Linked DNA regions of Homo sapiens. The protein of the gene in region 1 interacts with the protein of each later gene in a pairwise test. Each region holds a gene or a part of one and is shown on either strand. Other genes may lie near its edges.

Region 1 (3,384 bases):
CCCCCCCCAATACCTGGTTGGTCACGTCCCCCGGGAGGCCCCGGATCAGTATCTTGCGGCGGTTACGGAACTGGCGCTCGGTGTGTTCCAGGCGTTTCCGGATCTCTTCTGGATCTAGAGGCGGCAGCTCTTCTTCCGGCGCCCGGCGCTCCGCGGCATCGCCGGCTTCGACTTCGGCCCCAGACTTAGGGCTCAGCGGGGGCCGGTGAGTAACGGACACGTCCGCCGCCATCTTGGGAAACCCGGCGCCTTCTGGGACCAGCGAGCCGGGGCGGAGCGGCATAGAGCGGCAACGAGGGCGCGCCCGTCGATTGGCTGGGAGAAACCCCACCTCCTTCCCGCCCCCCTTGCCCCGTTGGCTAAGCCCCAGCCCACCTCTCAAGAGTTCAAGCTGCGTCTGCGCGCCACAGGCCCCGCCCCCTTCCGTCGCAGCGACGCTACTCAGTGGATGTGCACCTGGGTGGGAGAGACTTGCAGCGCGGGTGGAATCAAACCACAGATTAGGGAGTTTGAAGGCTTTATTGGTGCGGAATCTGAGGGCACAGCCAAGCCCCCGCCAACTTTGATCCCGGATCCCAGCGTCACTCAGCTCTGGACGGTTCTTCCCCCATTGCTTCTGTCGGCTGCATAGACGTGAGGGGCAGATAGGTGCTCTCCTCCCTAACATGGTAACTGCCGCTCCGTTGGTGCTCCCTGAAGACGTACATTAAGGCCAGTACGATAGTCACCACGCCCAGGGTCAGTAACACCGCCACGAAGACGGGGACAAAGTGGGAGCTCCCAGCTGTGCAGAGAAAGCGCTAAGTCAATATGCGTCCCTTCTGTCTCCAACCCCCCCGCCCCCCGGCTTACCGGTCCAGACCCGCAGCCCCGTGTTAGCTCACCCTCAATGTCCATCACCACGACCAGGGTGTATTTGCCTCGTGAGCTGGACGCTTGGCACTGATAAGTACCATTATGTGTTACGTTGACGAAGAACGGGATCCCCACCGGCACCTCCCGGCTGGAGCCTTCCTTCAAACACCGCAGCTCGGGGTACGGGTTGCCCCTGGCTTGGCACTGCAGGACGTGTCTCGTTTTATCTTTCCATTTCAAGTGCTGGGGGCATGTGGCTCGGTCAATTTTGGGACCATCTGTGGAACCACCATGTGTGATCAGACACCCAACACACCCGAGGCACAGTGGTGCAGAGGAGCGTCTAATCTTTCCAGGGCAGGGGTGGAGGGATTAAAGGTCAGGGTGACCGACTCACACAGGACTCGCAGCTGGACGCTACTGTTCCTGTGCAAGAACTCGCCGTCCACCTCGAGAGTGGCACTGCAGAAGAAGCTGCGTCCGTCGTCACTCTCGGTAGCATTTAGCTGAAGTTGAGCTGGCTGCCCCGGGGCCGCGGCCGGAACTCCGTCCAGCGTGACCTGGACTCGAGCCCCAGCCATGCAACTCACGGTCACTGTGGACCCCTCATGGGCGGTGGGCTCGCTGAGGTTCACAATGGGTCCTAGGAAGCCTAAAGGCGGGGCATTGCCCAGGAGCTTAATGAACAGGACCTTCCTGTGGGTCAAGCCGCTCCCTCCGCCCTCCCCTTTCCTCTCGGGATATCCGGGCCACGCTTTCGGCCGTTCAAGCCTCGCCCTCTTTCCGCGCTGTGTCCAGCTTCGGGCACTCAGGCCCAACCCACGTTGCAACTGCTATTGGGGCAAGCCAGGCCCCACCTTTTCGGCTAGTCTCCGCCCCCTCTGCCACGCCCCCAGACTGCTGAGGCCGCGCCCCCTTCCCACGCCTCCTCTTACTAAAGACCGTCAAGTTCTCCCGGGCCTCCCGTCTCTCGCCCCCTAGGGTCACGTTGCAGACGATCTCCCGGGCACCCTCCTGATCCGCGCGCGCCGTGGCTGTGGCTGTGGCCGTTAGCGTGTCCCCGTGGTTCATGACTGTCGCATTCAGCATCTGGTCCCCCAGCGCCAGGTAGACCTGGGCCTCTGAGGCTGGAAAAAGCCCGTCTAGGGTGCAGTCCACCGGCCACGACGTTTCCACCTCCAAGAACCGGGGGGCCACGAGGCGCGGGGGGGTCACGGGCAGGACTGGGGAGAAAGGTGGGCATAGTACAACCCCCAGGACTGTGCCTTCCCCAGGACACCCTCATCCCCCCCAGTCAGGATATCTTGCTGACTGGGTCACCCTTCTTCACAGGACACACACACAGGGCCATGAAAACGGCCTTCTTCAAAGATCCCACGGCTCGGGCCTCCCTTCCGGGGCCACCTTGCCCAGTGGCCGGGGGCTTTCCTTCCCAGAAGCCTGTGAGGTCCGGGGTACCCCACTCTCAGGAACCCCAAGGTCAGGGCACCGTCTACCCTGGCTCAGCTCGTCACCCACCGTCTGAAGCCCCTTCTCTCACCAAAGGTTCGGAGCTGGCGGGGGGCTGAGGTGTTCACGAACAGTCCCAGCCCCTGGGGCTGCATGTCCAGTTCTGTGCGGCATGAGAAAGGGGCTCCGTGGTCGTCTCTGCTGGCCAGCACAGTGGCAGTGACCTCCGCTGGCTCCTCCACTGCGGGCTGCCGGCTCAGCTCCTCCTCCCAGCGAAGCAGCACCACCGTGAGGCTGGTCCGGGGCGACCCATCCTCCACTTGGCAGCGCAGGGTGAAGTTCTGGCCCACCGGCTGCCAAGGAGGCAGGGGTGCCAGCTCCACACGCTCCGGGAGCCCTGAGAGAGGAGGGGAGGATGGCACTTAGCGGGTCCTGCAAACCCACCCACTCACCCCAGGGACTGGGGAGGAGACAGGGTGGTCCTGCCGAGAACTGTGAGCTTTGAGTTAATAAACTTAGAGGGCTTAGAGCTGGGCCAGTCGAAGCGTTTGCTATTATCATTAGCGCAGTGATTATCATTTCCTGTGTTGTCAGATACCTTGCAAGGCGCTAAACAAAACTTTCTGTTCTCAAAGATGGCACAATAAAAAAAAATGAGGATGGAAGGGATGAACGTTTATGACTATGATATGAATATTAAAAATTCCTGTTTATGGCCAGACGTGGTGGCTCACGCCTGTAATCCCAGAGCTTTGGGAGGCCGGGGTGGGTGGATCAAAAGGTCAGGATTATTCAGTTCTCTCCAATCAGGTTCAGACACTCAGGGCTTTCCTGGTTCACCAGCCCTGTGGCAGCCTCTCAAGATACTCCGGCACAGTCACAGGAGACTTGACACTCCCAGGCTGGGTGCCCTCCCCAGTACACCTACAAAACGCTGGGCCTCAGGCCGGGCACTGTGGCTCATGCCTGTAATCCCAGCACTTTGGGAGGCCAAGGTGGACGGATCACCTGAGACCAGGAGTTCAAGACCAGCCTTGCCAACATGGTGAAACCCCATCTCTACTAAAAATACAAAAATTA
Region 2 (7,316 bases), on another chromosome or scaffold:
CAGCCTGGCCAACATGGTGAGACCCCGTCTCTACTAAAAATAAAAAACTAGCCTGGTGTGGTGGCGCACGTCTGTAATCCCAGCTACTCAGAAGGCTAAGGCAAGAGAATTGCTTGAACCCGAGAGGAGGAGGTTGCAGTGAGCCAAGATTACGCCACTGCACTCCAGCCTGGGCAACAGAGCAAGACTCTGTCTCAAAATAAATAAATAAATAAATAAAGCAAACAAAAAAAAAGAAGGCGACCCAGAAACACAATAAGGAATGTGTCCCTTCTCTGATCCCCACCCCGACCCCCAGCTGCACCCACTCCCCTGAGCCTTGTCTCTCCAACGAAGCCAGCACTGTCCCAGGGACTTGTTTTCAGGCTTTTTAAAAATGATTCATGGCTAATCGTCCTCATCGTAACCTTTGTGTGCATTTTTCATTACAAAAGTAACCAGTGAAACAGCCCACAGGTCTGGAAAAATCCACAGCGAACCTGGCCATCGAGTGGCCTGGGAGAGGGTAGGGTGAGGGTGGGGTATCCAGGGGGAATTGGTTCTGTTAAGAAAGACTACTTCCCTTTCCTTCGAGGTTCGGGGGTTAAACTTTTTTTTAGTAAAAAATAAAGAAACAGCCTGGCCGACATGGTGAAACCCATCTCTACTAAAAATATAAAAATTAGCCAGGCTGAGGCAGGAGAATCACTTCAACTCTGGAGGCGGAGGTTGCAGTGAGCCCAGCTGGAGCCACTGCACTCCAGCCTGGGCAATGGAGCGAGACACCGTCTCAAAAAATATATATATAAATAAAAATAAGAAATTAAGAATGACTTCCCTAGTGGTCTAGTGGTTAAAAAAAAAAATAAAAAAGACTACCGTTTTAAACAGAGAGCACATCCAAGCATTGTTTGCACCATCAAAAGTAAAGAAAACACAAATAAGCCGGGCGCGGTGGCTCACGCCTGTAATCCCAGCACTTTGGGAGGCCGAGGCGGGTGGATCATGAGGTCAGGAGATCGAGACCATCCTGGCTAACAAGGTGAAACCCCGTCTCTACTAAAAATACAAAAAATTAGCCGGGCGCGGTGGCAGGCGCCTGTAGTCCCAGCTACTCGGGAGGCTGAGGCAGGAGAATGGCGTGAACCCGGGAAGCGGAGCTTGCAGTGAGCCGAGATTGCGCCACTGCAGTCCGCAGTCCGGCCTGGGCGACAGAGCGAGACTCCGTCTCAAAAAAAAAAAAAAAAAAAAAAAAAAGAAAACACAAATAAGCCAGGAACAGTGGCTCATGCCTGTAATCCCAGCACTTTGGGAGGCTGAGGTGGGAGGATCGCTTGAGCCCAGGAGTTCTGCAGGAGACTGCAGTGAGCTATGATTGCATCACTGCACTCCAGCCTGCATACCAGAGTGAGACCCTGTCTCAAACAAACAAACAAAAACAAGAAAGGAAGGAAGGAAGGGGAAGAAAGAAAAAAAGAGAAAGAGAAAGGAAAGAAGGAAGGAAGGAAAGAAAGAAAGAAAGAGAAAGAAGAAAGAGAAAGAAGGGGTGGGAAGGGGAGGGGAGGGAGGGAGGAAGGAAGGACGGAAGAAAGGAAGAAAGCAAGCTAAAGTGAAAAGTAGGCTCCCTCCCTGCGAGCCCAAGCCCCTCACCCCAGCTGGAGAACCCGCTGTGAATACTTTCTGGTAGATCCAGCCAGACATCCTGCCTCACGCCAGGCACAAGTGTGTACAGACGACAGGACACAGCACATGTGCACACACACACTCCCAGGAAAGAAAGTGGTCCTCGGGGCACAGTGGAGAAGGCAGGCTGGGATCAGCCTGCACGGGTTCTGGCCCTGGCTCCACCGCGCCAGCTGCGTGACTCTGGACAAAGGCTTCTTTGGCAAGCCTCAGTTTCGCCGAACCTCCCTGTGGGGCTGCCAGCAGCCAGGTGGAGACTCAGGGGCCGCCTTCCCCTGCTGGGCTGAGGCTGGCTCTCCTGTCCTTGCCACACGGCCCCTTTCACCGCCAGTGGAAACCTGCCTCAGGCTGCCCTGTCCCGGGCCCCACCGACTCCACAGAGACGCCGGGCCTCGCCCACTGTTCTGGCAGTAGGCCTTCATGGGCAGGGCTTGCTGTGTGCCAGGCAAGCTGGGCGGCTGCTTCCTGTACACCACCTCCCCTGATATCCTCGCCCTGCCTGAGCCCATTCTGGGACAGCCTCAAGTCCTGTCTCTCCTGCCATCCAGCCCAGGGCACGCTGCTGGTATCCCGTAGCCCTGGCCCCTGGCAGGCTGGCCAGAGGGGCTCCAGGCCCACGCCAGGCCATGGCCTCTGGCAGCTGCCCTGGCCAGCAGCGCGTTCACAGCAGGAAGCCCCCGCTTCTCCTACCTGGGCTCCGGCTTCTTTGCAAGGGGTAGGGGAAGCAGACAGGTCCCAGAGGCTGCTCGGCTCACAGTAAGACCCGTCTAGGCTGCAACGCACCTGAGCCCCGCACTGGGAATCGAGGGCCAGGGGGCCTCTAACCGGCTTTGGGCAAAATAAACTTCCCCGATCTGGACTGTTCTCCACTACGAAACGGGGTGTCTCGGAGATCAAGAGCCCGAGGTCTCCCAGATATTCTGAGACCCTCAAGGGAGTTCCGCCTGGGATTGCCCATCCGCGGAATGGGCAGGAGAGGGAGCGTCGGCCACTCCTGGGACCGCGCTTCCTGCAGGAGAAGCCACGCGGCCAAGGGCTGGGCGTGGCAGGGTTGTCCAAGTTTTCCCTCCCGAACCCCCAGCCGGAGGCGGCCCGCGCTGGAACCCCGGCCGCGGAGGCCCAGACTCTGCTGCCCGCCGCCCCCTGACCCGGTAGCCGAGCCCCAAGTGCTGCCCCGGGTCGCCCCCTCGGGTGTCCAGTCTGCGGCTCCGGCCTCAGTTTCCCTCTGTCCCGCGGCGCTGCCAAGAGTCGCAGCCATGCGGGCCCCCACTTCCCGCTGCCCCCTCCGCGTCCCGTCCTCACTCACCAGCGGCGAGGGCACGCTCCGGGAAGGGCACTGCCTGGCAGGAGTTAGCCAGGCCGCTGTCCCCGCATCCGCCCCGCCCCTCCCAGCCGCCAGGCCCCGCCCCTCTCAGTCGCCCGGCCCCGCCCCGCCCCGCCTGGCAGCCCGGGCACTGGGCCCACTCGCGTCCCCGCGGGACCGGGAGCTCACTCCTCAAAGCCACCTCTCCCGCGGGACGCGCTTCTGCCTCCCCCCGGCCGCGAGCAAGTCTCTCGGCTCCTCCTCCTCCCCATGGTGACCGGTGACGGCCGCCCGGCCAGACCCAACATCTAAAACGTTGCCGTGTGTCCAACGGCGTGTCGTTTGTCGTCTCTTCTAGCCTCACTTTTCCCATCTATAAAATGCAGCAACAAGACCGATCTCCGAGTGGGGAATTACCTCTCCTGAGGCCAAGGCCCTGAGCGTCCTGCTGCCCAGCAGCCTTGGCCCCATTTCCGGAGCACCCCAGTTCCTTGAGCTGTTGACGCAGGGCACGGAGGCAGCGCGCTGCACTCTTAGTCCTGGCCCAGCCACTTTCTGACTGGCTCTCTGGGCCTCCATCTCCTCATCTGTAAAATGGGCACAAAGTCGTGGGACTGATGAGGCCGCAACGCGGTGATGCAGGCAGGACACCCCTCAGATGCTCGGCGCTCAGTGAGGGGAGGCTGCCATCATCACAGCCCAGAGGTGGCCTCCAGCTGCCCAGGTCCACTCCCATGCAGGGTGTGTCCAGCCCCAGGCCCTTGGCACTATGGCTGTCTTGCTGCAGTTCAAGGCTGTCCCAGCTCCCTCCAGACAACTCAGCCTGGCAACGCCCCATCAGCCTGAACCAGCCACGTTGGCCCAAACTGATCCTGCAGGGTCCAAGGAGAACTGTGGCTACTTCTACCCAGACACAGAAGCCAGGAGCCTCCTTGGGGACCAGCCAGGCTGCAGTATGGCTTTCCTAGGACCTGGCATTTTTGCCTTTGTGAGCCTCTTCCTCTATTAAAAAACAAACATACATAAATCTATTTTTTACTGTGTTGGCCTGAAGACAAGGATAACCCAGGCTTGGTTCCATTCTTCATTCATCTTTTTCTTCTGGGTTTCTTTTTTTTTTTTTTTGAGACGGAGTTTCGCTCTTGTCTCCTAGGCTAGAGTACAATGGCACAATCTCGGCTCACTGCAACCTCTGCCTCCTGGGTTCAAGTGATTCTCTCCTCCCTCAGCCTCCCGGTAGCTGGGATTACAGGCGCCTGCCACCATGCCCGGCTAATTTTTGTATTTTTAGTAGAGATGGGGTTTCACCATGTTGGCCAGGCTAGTCTCGAACTCCTGACCTGAAGTGATCCACTGCCTCGGCCTCCTAAAGTGCTAGGATTACAGGCGTGAGCCACCGCACCTGGCAGCTTTGTTTTTTTTTTTTTTTTTCTTTTTTAAAATTCCTTCTGGCCAGGCACGGTGGCTCATGCCTGTAATCCCAGCACTTTGGGAGGCCGAGGTGGGTGGATCACTAGGTCAGGAGTTCGAGACCAGCCTGGCCAACATGGTGAAACCCCATCTCTACTAAAAATACAAAAATTAGCTGGGCATGGTGGTGTGTGCCTGTAATCCCAGCTACTTGGAAGGCTAAGGCAGGAGAATCTCTTGAACCCAGGAGGCAGAGGTTGCAGTGAGCTGAGACGGTGCCACTGCACTCCAGCTTGGTGACAGAGCGAGACTCCGTCTCAAAAAAAAAAAAAAAAAATCCCTTCTTAGCCGGGCGTGGTGGCTCACACCTGTAATCCCAGCACTTTGTGAGGCCGAGGCCGGTGGATCACCTGAGGTCAGCAGTTCGCCACCAGCCTAACCAACATGGTGAAACCCAGTCTCTACTAAAAATACAAAAATTAGCTGGGCATGGTGGCAGGCGCCTGTAATCCCAGCTACTCAGGAGGCTGACACAGGAGAATCGCTTGAACCGGGAGGTGGAGGTTTCAGTGAGCCAAGATCACGCCATTGCACTCCAGCTTGGGTGACACAGTGAGACTCTTTCTCAAAAAAACAAAACAAAAAATAAAATAAAATAAAAATAAGACACACATGTGGCTGGTTGCAGTGGCTCACGCCTGTAATCCTAGCACTTCGGGAGGCCGAGGCAGGCAGATCACTTCAGGTCAGGAGTTGGAGACCAACCTGGCCAACACGGTGAAACCCCATCTCTACTAAAAATACAAAAATTAGCTGGGCGTTGTGGCGGGCACCTTTAATCCCAGCTACTCGGGAGGCTGAAGCATGAGAATCACTTTAACCCGGGAGGTGGAGGCTGCAGTGAGTCGTGATCACACCTCTGCACTCCAGCCTGGGTGATAAAGCAAAACTCAATTTAAAAAAAAAAAAAAAAACCACACACGTGTACACATTACAACAATAATACCAGGTGTGCCCATTCCCCAGTTATGACCAGAACATTACGAGAGTCCTAGGAGCGCCCTGGTGACCTCCCCAGCGATTCCTCCCCTCCCCAGAGATCACCTTTACTTTGACTTGGGTTGATCACGCCCTTGCTTTCCTTTAGGGTTTTATGAATCCCACCCGGGTGTGTTTCCCTGAGTACTATGTGTGCAGAGAGGCAGCACACCCCCAGCTGGGGCAGAACAGGCACCATGGCCAGGCCAGAAGACTCCCGGGAAGATAAACTCAGCTGAGCGCCTGGGGTACAGGCTGGGCCCGGCCTCTGTGGGCACTGACAAGAGGCCCCTCTGGGGCAGGCAGAGGGCATGGTTGTGGGTGGGGCTCCCCTGTGAGGACGTTGAGCACAGCTGTGGCATGCGCATTCAGCAGGAAATGGTCAGGGGCATGAGCTGTTCTGTCTCTTGCTTCTGAGCTCACAGTGCCCTGAGGAGTAGGGTGCTCAGACCTCAGGAGCAAGGTGAGGCCTGTCAGGTGAGCCATGTGTCCTCAGCAGACCCAGGCAGCAGGGCGAGAACAGGGCTTCCTCAGCCTGTGATAGGGACCAGTCAGGTGCAGGCAAGATTCTGGGCCAGCGTCAGGTGCAATGGCTCAAGCCTGTAATCTCAGCACTTTGGGAGGCCGAGGTGGGCGGATCACGAGGTCAGGAGATCAAGACAATCCTGGCTAACACGGTGAAACCCCGTCTCTACTAAAAATACAAAAAAATAGCAGGGTGTGGTGGCGGGCACCTGTAATCCCAGCTACTCGGGAGGCTGAGGCAGGAGAATGCTTGAACCCGGGAGGTGGAGGTTGCAGTGAGCCGAGATCATGCCACTGCACTCCAGCCTGGGCAACAGAGTGAGACTCTGTCTCAAAAAAAAAAAAAGAATCTGGGCCAAGCTTGTGGGGCATTCTGTACCTAAATGAGCAGCATGGCAGTAGGGATGTTGGTAATGCCAGCTCTCAACACATCTCAAGTCACGCTGCTCCCCGCTGGACAGGCTGCACAGGTCCAGTACACACACCATGCCCGGGTCTTTCTTCACCACCTCCGCCCCCTCCTGCATGGGTCCTTATTTCCTGGATTTCACATCTTCCTCTTTCTTGGTCCCCCCTTGCTTGTGTTGAGCCTATCCTCCAGGAGTTCTTGAGAAAGACTGCCCGGAAGGTAACATTGCTGAATTCTTGCATCCTACCCCATAGATGGCTGATGCTTGGCTGAGCTGCAGATCGTTGTCCTTCAGAATCATGAAGAGATGCTGTTGGCCAGCTGCCACACTGCGGTTGAGCAGGCTAAAGCCATTCTGTTTCGGAAGTCTTTGGTTGTTTTTTGTTTTGTTTTTATTTTTTTGTAGACACAGGGTCGCGCTATGTTGCTCAGACAAGTTTCCAACTCCTGGGCTCAAGCAATCCTGCTCCGGCCACGCTGTGGATCCTTTATATGTAACCGATTTTGTTCTTCCTGGAAAGTTTTTAAGATTTTGGGCCCCAGAGTTCTGCAGTTTCACACTGATATTCCCCTATGTGGGACTAATTTTTTTTTTTTTTTTTTTTTTTGAGACCATCTCACTCTGTAATCCAGGCTGGAGTGCAGTGGTACGATCTCGGCTCACTGCAACCTCTGCCTCCCGGGCTCAAGCAATTCTCCCTCAGCCTCCCGAGTACCTGGGACTACAGGCGAGCTCCAACACACCCAGCTTCATTTCCTCCACTGTGCCTGCACTCAACAGGCACTTTCCCGCTGGAAGCTCATTCTTTACTTTTCAGAAGTTGGATTATTTCTTTGATTTCCTTCCCTCTATTTTCTCACTTCTCTTTCTTTTCAAATTTATGTTGTGCAGCAATCACTTCCTTTCTGGAACTCCTATTACTCAGAATGTAGGGCCTCTAGGGCTGTTTTTCTAACTTCCTTTTTCTC
Region 3 (6,455 bases), on another chromosome or scaffold:
ACCTGTGTTCCTACCATTCCTTAATAGGATCTAACACTCTGTGTACATTATAATCTCCAAATCGGAGAAAAGTGCATATAAGAAGTTAGCATGTGTGCATACATGCATATCTATATACATAAGTAGGAAAAGACGGGAAAGTTCTAATCACAGAAAAAAAATCACAAACAATTCTGTGCTGAAGAATGCGTCCCTGCTTTCCTCCTCTCTGCCTCTGGTCTCCTGCCCACACATACTGGGGACCATTTGGAGTGTCCCCATGCTGACCGGTTGCCGTGGGTGTGTGCTGGTGGGGGGTAGGAGCATAGCAGGTGGAGTTTCATTAGAATTAGTAGAACTCAGGCATTTGTGAAGTTTCCGTTTCCCTGGTTAGGGAAGCTAGAGGCCGTGGGGCACTGGCATTTGAGAAGCTGGAGGCTGCAGCTTCCATCCTGCCTGAGCTGCTTGCTGGGCAGAAGCCAGGCTGAGCGTGTGAGCTTCATTTATTTCTCTCTGCAAGGGGCTGCTGAACCATGATGGGGGCACAAAGTGGGCGAAGGGCGGGAAGATAAGTGGGGTACACCCAGGAAGGTGGGGACTGTCCAGGCTTCAGAGTCACAGATGTGGGTTTGACCTTTGACTCTGCCAGTCCTTTCTTTTGTGTCAGTGGCAGGGCCTTGGATTCTTCCTTGTGAAACTGGAGCAGTCATTTTAGGCAGAGCTCTTTCCAGTGTAAGGGACAGAGACCCCTTGGAGCCAGCCAAAGTTGAAAGAGGCGTTCATCACATACAGAGACACGTCGGAGTACCCTGAGGACAGGAACCTGTGTAGAGCTGGCCTCACAGGGGACTCGACTAGAAGGAGGAGAGTGTGGAGGCTTCTCTTGTGGCCTCTCTGGAGTGCTCCCTCCACCCCCAGGCCTCTCTCCCACCTGGCTTCCCTGGTGACTACAACTGTGTGATTGTCCAACTTCAGTGTCCATTCATGTCTCTTAGATTCTTGAAGTAGAGGCCAGTTGGCCCAGCTTCTCCTTTAGGCAAGCCCACATTTCAGAGGTCCTAGCAGATGTGCTTGAGCCAGCCCTGGCCCAGGAGGCCGCCCGGTGCAGCCCCTGGGCCCAGAGCCATGGTGAGGCGATCCTTAGCCCAGAGGGAGGCGGGCATGGACAGTGCTCTGTGGTGGCCTTTCCACCCTCCAAAAGTGATTGCTTCTTGATTTCTCTTTCCCTGAGTCTGCCTCCCAACTTCCCAGACTTTAAGCTGAAACCTTCTCCTATTTCATTGAAAAAAACAGAAGCCTTTAGTCCCCCAACCCTCACAGTACGGAGCCACCCCTCGCCCCCAGTGCCATCTTCCTACCTCCTCTTGTTGAGTTCAAAGGGTCCTTTGCCTCTCGAAGGCAGGTCTGTCCATTCAGCTTCTTGTCTTGCTCCTACAGAGACCTCTTCTTTTTTCAGTGTCAGGGTTTTCTCCCATTCTATTAGACCCCTCAAACATCATTCTCTAGTTTCGCTTATTATTTAAAGAAAAAGAAAGAAAAACCATTTTGGCCACACACATTCTTCCCACAAAACTTCAAAGCAGTTTTCTGCCCTGGTGCTGTTTGGCGTGCTGGCATGCAGACCCGTCATCACAAGCTACCGGAAGACAGAGGGGCTTGCAGCAGAGTGTCAGCCAGCTCTGCACTGAGCACGTGCCACTGACAGTTTTTCCCTGGCCAAATATTCCCGAGGAAGGAAGCAGTGCGTTCGCTTATGTTCTGGCACAAATGCCTCTGTCTTCTCACAGTTGACCTTCTTGACTGTCTTGGTCCCCACGACAGCACGTTCTCTTTTGCCTCACTCCTTTTCTCTGAGTACCCCATGCTTGCTCTTCCCCTTCCTGCCCTGTAGCTGTCAGGGTGAAAGGACTCAGTCCTGGGCCCTTTCTCTGCCTGCCTTGGACATGATCTCTCTTAATCCAATAGTTGATGACTTCCAAATACAGATCTTCAGCCCAGACCCAGCTCCTGACTCATTTATCCAATTGCCTCCTTGATATTATTTCCATGACGATGTCTAAGAAGCATCCTCACATGCAGAGCACTCAATGCGCTTCTTGAGTCCGCCCTTCCCCAGTGCCCATGCCCTCCCTGGCTCAGGCCACTCTGCCCTCTGCCTGGTGCTCTTCCCAGCTTTTTTCCTGGTTGGTCCCTTTTCACCATAGGGTCCCCTCCCCAGTCGTTATCTCAGAGATGCTTTCCCTTGCTGCCCCAGCTCACAGGTGAGTGAGAGCAGAGACGCTGCTCCTCCTGAAGCCTGATGAAGTACCCAGGATTCAGACGGGCATGTTTGCCCTTTAAATCCTGACCAGACCGGCCCTGGCCCCAGCAGCTTGAGGCTTTTTTCCATGCCTCCAGGAACTTCTGAATGCATCTTACAAATGTTGAGAACTGGTCATTGTGGAGGCTGGGGCCTTTGAATGTCAACTACACTTGTGTGGGTGGATGCAGACAGCAGCATGAAGTGCAGGAGGGAAGTCAGGCCCAGCACTGCTAGCCAGCCAGCCAGGGCATGGCTAGCCCCAGGCCTGGGGTGCCACCTGCCAGTCCTGTGAGGAATTTGGGAGAGACAGCAGCGGGCTCCGACAGGCCATTAGCTCCACAAGGAAATGGCCACGAATCAGAGTGCTGCTAATGGCTTGTTTCTTTTTAAACAATTTTTTTGAGGCCGTGTCGGAGAGAATAGGCTGCCATTTGCAGCTTTGAACAGGAATGCTGTCCATTGCTCTGTTAGAAGCCATGGGGTATTTACAAACTGGGTGACTGTTGGCAAGACATTTTTCCCCTTTGCTCCTTGGTTTCCTCCCTTCCGTGATGGGGATAATAAAGCCTGTCTGTCTGACTCACAGGGCCGTTGGGGTGTGTTCCAGGTGTTGGTATGTCAGCTAGCACGAATTCGCCGCCCGCTCTGTGCCAAGCCCTGAGTTATACAGCTTCCTACTCCATCCTCACCACGGTCCCGCGAAGGTGGGCATCACTCAAGGCTGCAGTCAGGCTTAGAGGAGCTCAGTGCACCCGTCCCTGGGCCGCCCACGGGTATGGGTGGAGATGTCTCAGCCCACCTGTACCGCGTCCCTGCGGGCGGGCAGAGCTCTGGGTACAGATGCATTTGTTTTCCAGATTCTCACAGTCATCCTTTAAGACAAGCTGTTCTCATTGTTCAGATGATGGCATGGAGGCCTAGTGGAGTTAAGTGACTTGCTCAAAGCCATTTAGCCTGTAAGTGATTGGTCCTGGATTTGAAGGCAAGTCTGCCTGGAAGTCCTTTGGAAGACTTGAAAAGGAGAATTGGTAAAGCCAGGGGTTCCTATACCTTTCAGGCCTTAAGAAAGTAATAGTAGGTGTTTTTTTTTTTCTCTCTGTTCCTTATTTCATGAAGGAAATTATACATTTGCCCAAATGGCGCTTCCCTTAATATTTGCTGAACCTTAATGTTTGCTTTTGATTGGCATTATGCCATCCTAGCACAATAATATTTGTCATCTCATACCTTAGGAAACTCTGCCTGATTTTGAATGATACAAAAAAGGTTTTGGGGTCTAAATGGAGTGAGAGGAATGGTAAGAGATTAAGTATCCCTCATAAAAACAGGATGGTGTCAGTAAGACCTTTCCCAACTCTGAGTTCACATTCTACCACCTCGGTCACTTAGGTGTAAATGTCATCTTCCTCCTCAAGATGATGACAGGCCACCCACTACCCTGGGACAAAACAGGGCAGACAGTATACAGCATAGGTCCCTCTGCTAGAGGAACATTGGTATTCAGTGCTCTTCTGCTTCCAAGAACCCCTCACTCCATGCTACTCTCCGAGAATATTGTAATGGACATCTGCCTTTGATATAGCCCTGATACCCAACCCCACTCCGTCACTGTGTTTGAAAAGTACTCTTCCTGCTGTACAAATTGGAAGGCTAGGCTGTGGGCATATGGGCCGGGGCTTGGCTAGTCACACATGCATGGAAGCTGGTGATGCAGAATGCTGGGGGGTGGCGAGTTCATCTGGAGACTGTGCCAGCAGCCACATCTAGTTTTTGGGGGTGGTCATGGTGGCTCGGCACCTCCTGCTCCAGTGCCCATGTCCAGTGCTGACGGTGGTGATGCAGGCTCTGGCATCCTCACACTGGGAGTGTGAGTTGGGCTCCAGTTATGGCAGCACAGCATAATGTCCTGCCCATTTTCTGAGCCTGGTTCTTTGGCTTTTCTGGGAATCAGTGAGATGCCAAAGGCCTTTAAGTAAACTCGATTTAAATCAGCTGAAGTCTGCTTCATCTGCTTAAAGCTAAGAAGCCGACTTTTATAGAGATGTTCCTCTGTAGTTATCCAAACATTTGTATTCATTCTTCTGGCCCCTGAAAGTTCTACTTCACCTGTTAGGCACCTCCGTGAGCTACAGAATTAACAGGAGAATCCCAGGTTGAGTGGGTGGCAGGACTGTGGGCTCAGCCGTCTCCCTTCATTATTACTGTGACCCGGGTCTCCATCATGCCCCCTAGACGGTGACCTCTGTGGGGACACAACTGAGTCCTTCATCTCTATCCTCAGCTCCTTGAGTAATGCTTGGCACACGGTGGGTGCTTGGGAAGGTTTGGATGAATGGGCCAAGGAACCAACAAAGAGATGAGAGAAGTTGATGCCTGTGGGCTCTCTGCAGCCTTAATGAGGCTGGCCTGGCTTGGGCAGGAAGGGGGCTACGTGCCTGGAGACTGCAGGCTGCCTGCAGTTCCATGCTGGAGATGGGCTGGGGAGATCATGGAACTTAGAGCAGGAAAGCAAGTAGCTAGAGCCACGAAAGGGAGAGCCGCTCCTCTGAGTGGAGGCGGCGTAGTTGGTGCTTCCCAATCCTTTCACCTCATGGCATGTACAGAACACAGTATTATTTGTCTGGTACCCAGGGCTTTGTCCAGCTGGCGCTGGAGCGGAGGCCCCTCTCACAGCACACCGGTGACCCAGTGCCCACTACTTAGAGCGCTGATCCCAAGAGAACTTAGAGCCTGGTGTGGCCTCTGTTCTTAGCCCTTTGTCATGTAAGTTGCAGATATTTTTCCTAGTTGTGTATTTGCCTTTAAGTGATTTATTTTTTCTTCTATTTGGTTTATTCTCTACTATCACAGTTGTTCTCTCTACAGGAGGTTCCAGCCTTGGCAAGAGGAGTGTGGCCCTTCCTGGAATCCCTCTGGACACACCCTCCTAGCATCCTCTAGGAAAGATGCGGCAGCTCAAAGGGAAGCCCAAGAAGGAGACCTCCAAGGACAAGAAGGAGCGGAAGCAAGCCATGCAGGAGGCCCGGCAGCAGATCACTACAGTGGTGCTGCCCACGCTGGCCGTGGTCGTGCTCTTGATCGTGGTGTTTGTGTACGTGGCCACGCGCCCCACCATCACCGAGTGAGCCCCGCAGCCGGCTGCGGACCCCATCGGCAGGGAGAGGAGGCGCGGGAGGGGGACGCAAACAAAAAATGGCTTTCATATTCAGAGATGTTCATGTTGCTGAGCTGTAAGCAGGAGCACCCTGTCTTCTCTGGTCTTTGACTTGATTAAAGTATCTCCGCTTTCTTGGGAGGGAATAGGGGATGTTTTATCAGTGAATGTGCCATACACCTTATGGTCCACTTCATGTGCCTTTCAGACTTCAAAGCGCGCGCGCATGTGTGTGTGTGTGTGTGTGTGTGTGTGTGTGTGTGTGTGCTTCTTTTTCTCTCCTAAAAATCGATAAGTAGCTCCACCTGAAGAGGGATGGAACCTCTGGGTCAGGAAACAGCTGGAATCCACACTCACCTCATTCCCATTGTTTGGATCATGCTTCTTTCCAACACGTGTTCACAATCTCCAAAGGGACTGTATTTCTTCTCTGTGCTTAATGTGATTTGAAATATGTTGAATCAAAGTGAAATATTTATTTTTTGAATAAAGGAGATAATAGCCTTAAACTGGATGCTTATCATGTTTTGCAAGGAGGTGCTGTCTGTGGGTCTCCCCCTGCCCACGGGTCTGCCCCTCTTCCCTCCCCTTCCCTTTCTCCTGTGGCTCTCTCCACCTTCCCCAGCACTCCCTCTGCTCATCATTTCTGAGTAAAATTATGCTTTTTGACCGATAATTTTAAGATGGAGAGGGACAGAAAGGGTATATTAATTGGCTTGCTTTAGAAAGTGAGAGTTCTAATTAGACTGTGACGACAGGTGCTTTTTACACCAGTTAGTTTTTCCTACTTCAACTCGGTATGTTTGTGCAAACAGCAATACAGAGTGATCCTGGAAGTAAAGGTCAGGCTTGGTTTTGTTCTTAGCTGAAAGGATGCAAATTGTTGGCATTCCAGCTGAGTTTTCAATGCAAATTGGCTGGAATGGTTGCCTCATTTTATTCTAACAGCACTGCTCAGGCGGTCCTGGTTCCTGATGGAGCAGCCTCTTTTTGGAAGTCAGATTCATGGTTACTGTTCTG
Region 4 (6,914 bases), on another chromosome or scaffold:
TTTGGGAGGCTGAGGAGGGCAGATCACTTGAGGCTAGAAGTTCGGGACCAGCCTGGCCAACATGCTGAAACCCTGTCTCTACTAAAACTACAAAAATTAGCTGGGCGTAGTGGCGAGCACCTGTAGTTCCAGCTACTCGGGAGGCTGAGGCAGGAGAATCGCTTGAACCTGGGAGGCAGAGGTTGCAGTGAACCGAGATTGCACCACTGCACTATAGCCTGGGTGACAGCGACATTCCGTCTCAAAAAAAGAGAACAAAACAAAACAAAACAAAACAACTGGGGACTTGGCCAAGCCCCTGGAACTCTGGGGACAGGGGTCTGAAAAGTCCTAGCTCCCACCTGTTATGATCAGGATCCGAACTGCGCAGCAGCTGCTTTGCGTACGGAACTTTGCTCCCTCCTCTTGTTATTAAACTTTTTGGCTCACAAAGCATTTTTACTTCCTTCTCTCATTTCATGTGTATCTCAGACTGGGGAGTGGGCCCCAGTGTTCTCATTGTACAAAGGAGGAAGTTGGGGCTCAGAGATGGAATTGGCTTCTCCAAGGTCACAGGGCTGGTAGGATGGCTTATGGATACACAGCTTCCCAGCTTTTGTCCTGAGCTTTTTGGCTCATGAAGCATTTTCACATCCCCATCTCATTTCACGTCTGTTTTTGTTTTTGATCCTGGAGGGGGTGCAACATCCTCATTTTTACAAAGGAGGAAGCTGTGGCTCAGAGATGGTTCCTGGGCTGGAAAGATGGTTTATGGGGTGGGCAGAGATGGGTGAGCTGATCTGGTGGTTTTTATCCTTGATAGAAACCAGCAGGTGTGGCCAGGCGCAGTGGCTCACGCCTGCAATCCCAGCACTTTGGGAGGCCGAGGCGGGCAGATCATCTGAGGCTGGAAGTTTGAGACCAGCCTGGCCAACATGCTGAAACCCTGTCTCTACTAAAACTACAAAAATTAGCTGGGCGTAGTGGTGTGCGCCTGTACTCCCAGCTACTCGGGAGGTTAAGCCATGAGAATTGCTTGAACCCGGGAAGTGGAGACTGCAGTGAGCAGAGATCGTGTTGTCTCAAAACAAAAAACAAACAACAAAAACAACAAAAAACAACAACAAAAAACAAAAAAAAGCACGTGATCCAATTCTGTCAGCACAAAATCACACAGTGCATGTTATAAAGAAGAAAAAGAAAATAAATGAGTGCCAACCCTGTACTCTCTGACCCCAAAACCAAGGTGATGAATGGCAGATGTCTTATAAGGTGTTCCTGTAAAAGATCTTCGGGCTTTGGGAAGAGGGCCAGATGCAGGCCTAGAGGTAAATTTCCTTGTTTTCCTCTGCCTTAGGGCTATGGGAGCTGGAGCGGAGAGGAGAGAAGCACCTTGCCTTTGCTGGTGTTTTTCCCGCAGCAGGTGGGTGGGACTGAGCCAACGGTCTCTTGGCATCAACAAAGCATCAACAAATCTCTCTCCAGCTCCACTTGTGCTGAGCTACTGGCTGATCCCCAAGGACATCCTTCTGGCCTCTCCTTCACACCTGGGTCCCCTAGCCCTGCGTGAGCTCTGTGCTTCTTCCCCTGCCCTGTGTCTGCTCTATGCCTGGAGCCTCTGTACCTGCCCTCTCCTCAACCCCCAACCCCTCCCTGCTCTCAGCTCCCGATACGCGTGGCTATGCCTGGGAGGGAAGGACAGCTTCTTAGGGCCACAGGTGGACTGTTGTAGGGCTTGCATGCTCCCCTCCCCCATGCCTGCTTCTCCAAGTGGCACTTGGCTGTGTCCCAGGAAAGCAAGGGCAGGAAGTGGCAGGGCGGGGGCCGGGGGCCGGGGGGGCAGGAGGCGGGCGGGGGGTTGGGGGGGGCAGGTTCTGGCCATCTGGCCAAGTCACGTGTCTACTCAGAAAGCTTGTTAAAGGCTACCTGGCTGGGACCACAGGTAAGAGGCACCTGGGGAAGGAGGCACCCATGCTGGAGTGCCCACCCGTCCTGGGCAAGGCCCTGGCCTTCTCTGGGCTTCAGTGTACTCCTTTGAGCCAAGGCAATAAAAGTCCCTGCCCTGCTGACTGGCAGGAGGCTGTGATGAGGTCATCTCCAGGAAAGCACTTATCGCCAATCATGATGTTACTTATCTCTGGTGTTATTCAGCCCATAGGCTCTGTGTGTAGAGGGAGCCTTGTAAAGAAAGCCCCAGGGAGGCGTGGTCTGGGCAGAAACCATCTCTGTTTGCTTTGGTGTGTGTGCCTATGATGGGGGTCAAGGTATAGGAGTGTGATTTGAAACTGGAGAATGCTTCGTTCTTTCCATCATCAAACATGTCTTTTTTTTTCTTTTTTTTTAGATGGAGTCTCGCTCTATCACCCAGGCTGGAGTGCAATGGCGCGATCTTGGCTCACCGCAACCTCCATCTCCCAGGTTAAAGCGATTCTCCTGCCTCAGTCTCCTGAGTAGCTGTGATTACAGGCGTGCGCCATCACACCCAGCTAATTTTTGTATTTTTTAGTAGAGATGGGGTTTCACCATGTTGGCCTAACTCCTGACCTCGTGATCTGCCCATCTTGGCCTCCGAAAGTACTGGGATTACAGGTGTGAGCCACTGCACCCGGCCCAAACATTTCTTTTTCTTTTCTTTTGAGACAGAGTCTTGCTCTGTTGCCCGTGGCTGGAGTGAAATGGTGCGATTATAGTTCACTGCAGCCTCAAACTCCTGGCCTTAAGCGATCCTCCCATCCTGGCCTCCCAAAGTGCTGGGATTATAGGCATGAGCCGCAGCAACCACTCCTCACATTTCTTGAGCATCTGTGATGTATCAAGCCAGATGCTGGGCACTGAGGTTGCAGAAGGCATTGTTCCTGTCTTCTAGGAGCCCCAGGCTAGCAGGGAAGACGGATGTGTATAGAGTTAACCACAATACCAGGCCTCAACTTCCCGTCTGTAACACAGGTGGACCATGCTAGATTGTCCCAGCCTGCCCTGTGCTTCATTAGCCGGTCAACAGATCCATCTCAAATACCTCCCATGGGTACTCACTGATTGCTTTAACCCAAACCATGGCACTCTTGAAGACTTTCCCTCAGGAAGCTCAAGGACTATGCATCCTTCTGGGTCAGAACTGGACACACAGCCACCAGTGCTGGACAATGGCGGCGGCTCAGGGACACACTGGAGCCCTGGCCCCTGCAGAGCTCCCAGCATGGTTGGGAAGAGAGATGCAAAATGACCACACGGCGGGTGAGGAGGAGCTCCCTCGGTGCGGCTGGGATGAGCCCTAGACACTCTCAATCACCCCCACGATGACCCCTTCCCAGAGGTCCCCTCAGTCATCTGCCCTGAACCAAGCTCTTCCTGATCCTAGACCCTCCACCCTCCCTCTATCTTCCAGGGCTTGGTGACATTCCAGGCAGAAATTTCTGACCCTTTTACTTTGGTCCCTCCCTCCCCAGCCCAGTCTCTGGTCAAACTGGATTCCTGGCTGTTCCCAGAACGAGCTGCCTTTCCCCACCTTGCCACCTCTGCCCTTGTTCTCTCTGCCTGAATGTCCTCCTTCACTAGCCTCGCTGCCTTGCACATCTCTCCTGAGGGCTGTCATCCCAGAATGAGCTGCATTTGTCCAGCCTGGCCCACCGTCTACCAGAACGTCCTCCTTCAGCCTGTCCCACTGCCTTGCAAAACTTTTCTGGGGGACCTGTTCACGATGCCTTCTGTAGCATACTCCAAGAATCCGGCGCCCCCTGGAGTTGTGCCACACAGCACCCCTTTGCAGTCAAGCTCCCTCAGCACCACCACCTCCACCCTGGAAGAGTTCCCCTTCCCTTTGAAATCTCATGGGACTTTGCACCCACTCTGGCTTTATTGGAAGGCTTTGTATGTCTCCACAGGGTAAACACCCATTTACTGGGGTGATGATGTCTCCAGGATCTAGTTCATGTTTGTCGTTGGTGACTGGCCCCACCCAGTTCTGGGCAAGCAGGCTGGATCCCGGCAGGAACAGAGCCCACCAGCCTAAACTTCCATGGAGGTGGAGAGGGGACAGGCTTCTGTCTCTTTTTGGCTGAAGGTGCATCATGTCCAAGGCCCCTCTTCTAGCCAAGCAGAGAAGCTGGGTGATAAGGATGGGTGAGAGTGGGTGATGTACCCCGGAGTCCTGGCCTCCCGGCTCCTCACTCCCCTACACGTAACTTTATCCGGCCAATGCCGCAAAGACTGCTGGTGAGGCCAGATGCATGAGTGATCATACTCACAACAGTCGTGAAACTGCCAGTGATGAAACTGGTAAGGACAAGAAATGACAATAATCAAGGTGGGGTTTCTCGTGGACGTTTCCAAGACTTCATTCTCAAATTCTCTCCCTCAGGGTCCCCACCCTGTCCTCCCACCTAAGCCTGGAATGAGGGGGCACTGGCCTGTGGGGACCCTGGTCTTCAGGCTCCCAAACCTGGCTGGGTCTGGTTGCCCCCTGGCCTTAACCTGTGAACATCCAGCTGTCCCTGGGCTGTGATTCAGTGTCTGTCTCCCGGGTGACCTCAGCATGGGCTTTGAGGAAGGGGAGAGAGTAGTTTCTTCTGAGACTGGATAGTGACTCAGGGACCCGGGGCTGGGGCCTCAAAAGTGCCTTTGTTGGCCTGGGCTCAGGAATCCAGAGAAACTGGTCAGGAGGAGGCCCCAGTGACAAAAACCCCTCCCTCTGCCCCCGCCCCTCTGCCAGAGCCATATAACTGCTCAACCTGTCCCCGAGAGAGAGTGCCCTGGCAGCTGTCGGCTGGAAGGAACTGGTCTGCTCACACTTGCTGGCTTGCGCATCAGGACTGGCTTTATCTCCTGACTCACGGTGCAAAGGTGCACTCTGCGAACGTTAAGTCCGTCCCCAGCGCTTGGAATCCTACGGCCCCCACAGCCGGATCCCCTCAGCCTTCCAGGTCCTCAACTCCCGTGGACGCTGAACAATGGCCTCCATGGGGCTACAGGTAATGGGCATCGCGCTGGCCGTCCTGGGCTGGCTGGCCGTCATGCTGTGCTGCGCGCTGCCCATGTGGCGCGTGACGGCCTTCATCGGCAGCAACATTGTCACCTCGCAGACCATCTGGGAGGGCCTATGGATGAACTGCGTGGTGCAGAGCACCGGCCAGATGCAGTGCAAGGTGTACGACTCGCTGCTGGCACTGCCGCAGGACCTGCAGGCGGCCCGCGCCCTCGTCATCATCAGCATCATCGTGGCTGCTCTGGGCGTGCTGCTGTCCGTGGTGGGGGGCAAGTGTACCAACTGCCTGGAGGATGAAAGCGCCAAGGCCAAGACCATGATCGTGGCGGGCGTGGTGTTCCTGTTGGCCGGCCTTATGGTGATAGTGCCGGTGTCCTGGACGGCCCACAACATCATCCAAGACTTCTACAATCCGCTGGTGGCCTCCGGGCAGAAGCGGGAGATGGGTGCCTCGCTCTACGTCGGCTGGGCCGCCTCCGGCCTGCTGCTCCTTGGCGGGGGGCTGCTTTGCTGCAACTGTCCACCCCGCACAGACAAGCCTTACTCCGCCAAGTATTCTGCTGCCCGCTCTGCTGCTGCCAGCAACTACGTGTAAGGTGCCACGGCTCCACTCTGTTCCTCTCTGCTTTGTTCTTCCCTGGACTGAGCTCAGCGCAGGCTGTGACCCCAGGAGGGCCCTGCCACGGGCCACTGGCTGCTGGGGACTGGGGACTGGGCAGAGACTGAGCCAGGCAGGAAGGCAGCAGCCTTCAGCCTCTCTGGCCCACTCGGACAACTTCCCAAGGCCGCCTCCTGCTAGCAAGAACAGAGTCCACCCTCCTCTGGATATTGGGGAGGGACGGAAGTGACAGGGTGTGGTGGTGGAGTGGGGAGCTGGCTTCTGCTGGCCAGGATAGCTTAACCCTGACTTTGGGATCTGCCTGCATCGGCGTTGGCCACTGTCCCCATTTACATTTTCCCCACTCTGTCTGCCTGCATCTCCTCTGTTCCGGGTAGGCCTTGATATCACCTCTGGGACTGTGCCTTGCTCACCGAAACCCGCGCCCAGGAGTATGGCTGAGGCCTTGCCCACCCACCTGCCTGGGAAGTGCAGAGTGGATGGACGGGTTTAGAGGGGAGGGGCGAAGGTGCTGTAAACAGGTTTGGGCAGTGGTGGGGGAGGGGGCCAGAGAGGCGGCTCAGGTTGCCCAGCTCTGTGGCCTCAGGACTCTCTGCCTCACCCGCTTCAGCCCAGGGCCCCTGGAGACTGATCCCCTCTGAGTCCTCTGCCCCTTCCAAGGACACTAATGAGCCTGGGAGGGTGGCAGGGAGGAGGGGACAGCTTCACCCTTGGAAGTCCTGGGGTTTTTCCTCTTCCTTCTTTGTGGTTTCTGTTTTGTAATTTAAGAAGAGCTATTCATCACTGTAATTATTATTATTTTCTACAATAAATGGGACCTGTGCACAGGAGGAAATTTTATTGTCTCTGATTTCAACTGTGGAGGTGGGTGGGGAAGGGCTGGAGGCCTGGGTGCGGGGGTGGGGGGGGTCAGTCAGGGGCAGGACCACTGTGTTTTGGCCGGGACATAAACACTTAAAAAAAAAAAAAAAAAACGAGATCCAGGGAATTGTGAAAAATTGGAGCTGGGCCGGGTGCGGTAGTGAGCACCTGCAATCCCAGCACTTTAAAAGGTCGAGGTGGGAGGATCGCTCGAGGCAGGAGTTTGAGACCAGCCTGGGGAACATAGTGGCACCATCTCTACAAAAAGTTAAAAAAATTAGCTGGGTGTGGTGGCTCATGCCTGTAATCCCTGTACTTGGGGAGGTCGAGGTAGGCGAATTGCTTGAGCCCAGGAGTTTGAGGCTGCAGTGAGCTTTGATCGCACCACTGCACTCCAGCCTGGGTGACAGGGCGAGACCTTATCTCTTAACGAAAAAAAAAAAAAAATCGAAACGGGCCTCCAAGGTATCACCT

What was found.
Region 2: the proteins of ICAM3 (region 1) and TSPO interact in binary tests that used the Homo sapiens proteins (3 or more experiments, as listed by UniProt).
Region 3: the proteins of ICAM3 (region 1) and SMCO4 interact in binary tests that used the Homo sapiens proteins (3 or more experiments, as listed by UniProt).
Region 4: the proteins of ICAM3 (region 1) and CLDN4 interact in binary tests that used the Homo sapiens proteins (3 or more experiments, as listed by UniProt).

Annotation. Positions count from the first base shown.
Region 1 is NC_000019.10:10,333,276-10,336,659, forward strand, and holds the end of ICAM3 (intercellular adhesion molecule 3 isoform 1 precursor), read right to left. Parts: intron 2,702-3,384; coding exon 2,396-2,701; exon of another isoform or gene 2,079-2,395; coding exon 1,791-2,078; intron 1,546-1,790; exon of another isoform or gene 1,508-1,545; coding exon 1,253-1,507; intron 1,134-1,252; coding exon 885-1,133; intron 785-884; coding exon 582-784; 3' UTR 501-581; downstream 1-500. Other genes in the region: RAVER1 (ribonucleoprotein PTB-binding 1), read right to left, coding at 14-232. UniProt on the Homo sapiens protein: ICAM proteins are ligands for the leukocyte adhesion protein LFA-1 (integrin alpha-L/beta-2). ICAM3 is also a ligand for integrin alpha-D/beta-2. In association with integrin alpha-L/beta-2, contributes to apoptotic neutrophil phagocytosis by macrophages.
Region 2 is NC_000022.11:43,147,257-43,154,572, reverse strand, and holds the start of TSPO (translocator protein), read right to left. Parts: upstream 3,015-7,316; 5' UTR 2,969-3,014; exon of another isoform or gene 1-2,968. UniProt on the Homo sapiens protein: Can bind protoporphyrin IX and may play a role in the transport of porphyrins and heme. Promotes the transport of cholesterol across mitochondrial membranes and may play a role in lipid metabolism, but its precise physiological role is controversial.
Region 3 is NC_000011.10:93,477,961-93,484,415, reverse strand, and holds the end of SMCO4 (single-pass membrane and coiled-coil domain-containing protein 4), read left to right. Parts: intron 1-5,131; coding exon of another isoform or gene 5,132-5,226; coding exon 5,227-5,406; coding exon of another isoform or gene 5,407-5,546; 3' UTR 5,547-5,944; downstream 5,945-6,455.
Region 4 is NC_000007.14:73,826,277-73,833,190, forward strand, and holds CLDN4 (claudin-4), read left to right. Parts: upstream 1-4,719; 5' UTR 4,720-4,925; coding exon 4,926-5,555; 3' UTR 5,556-6,414; downstream 6,415-6,914. UniProt on the Homo sapiens protein: Can associate with other claudins to regulate tight junction structural and functional strand dynamics.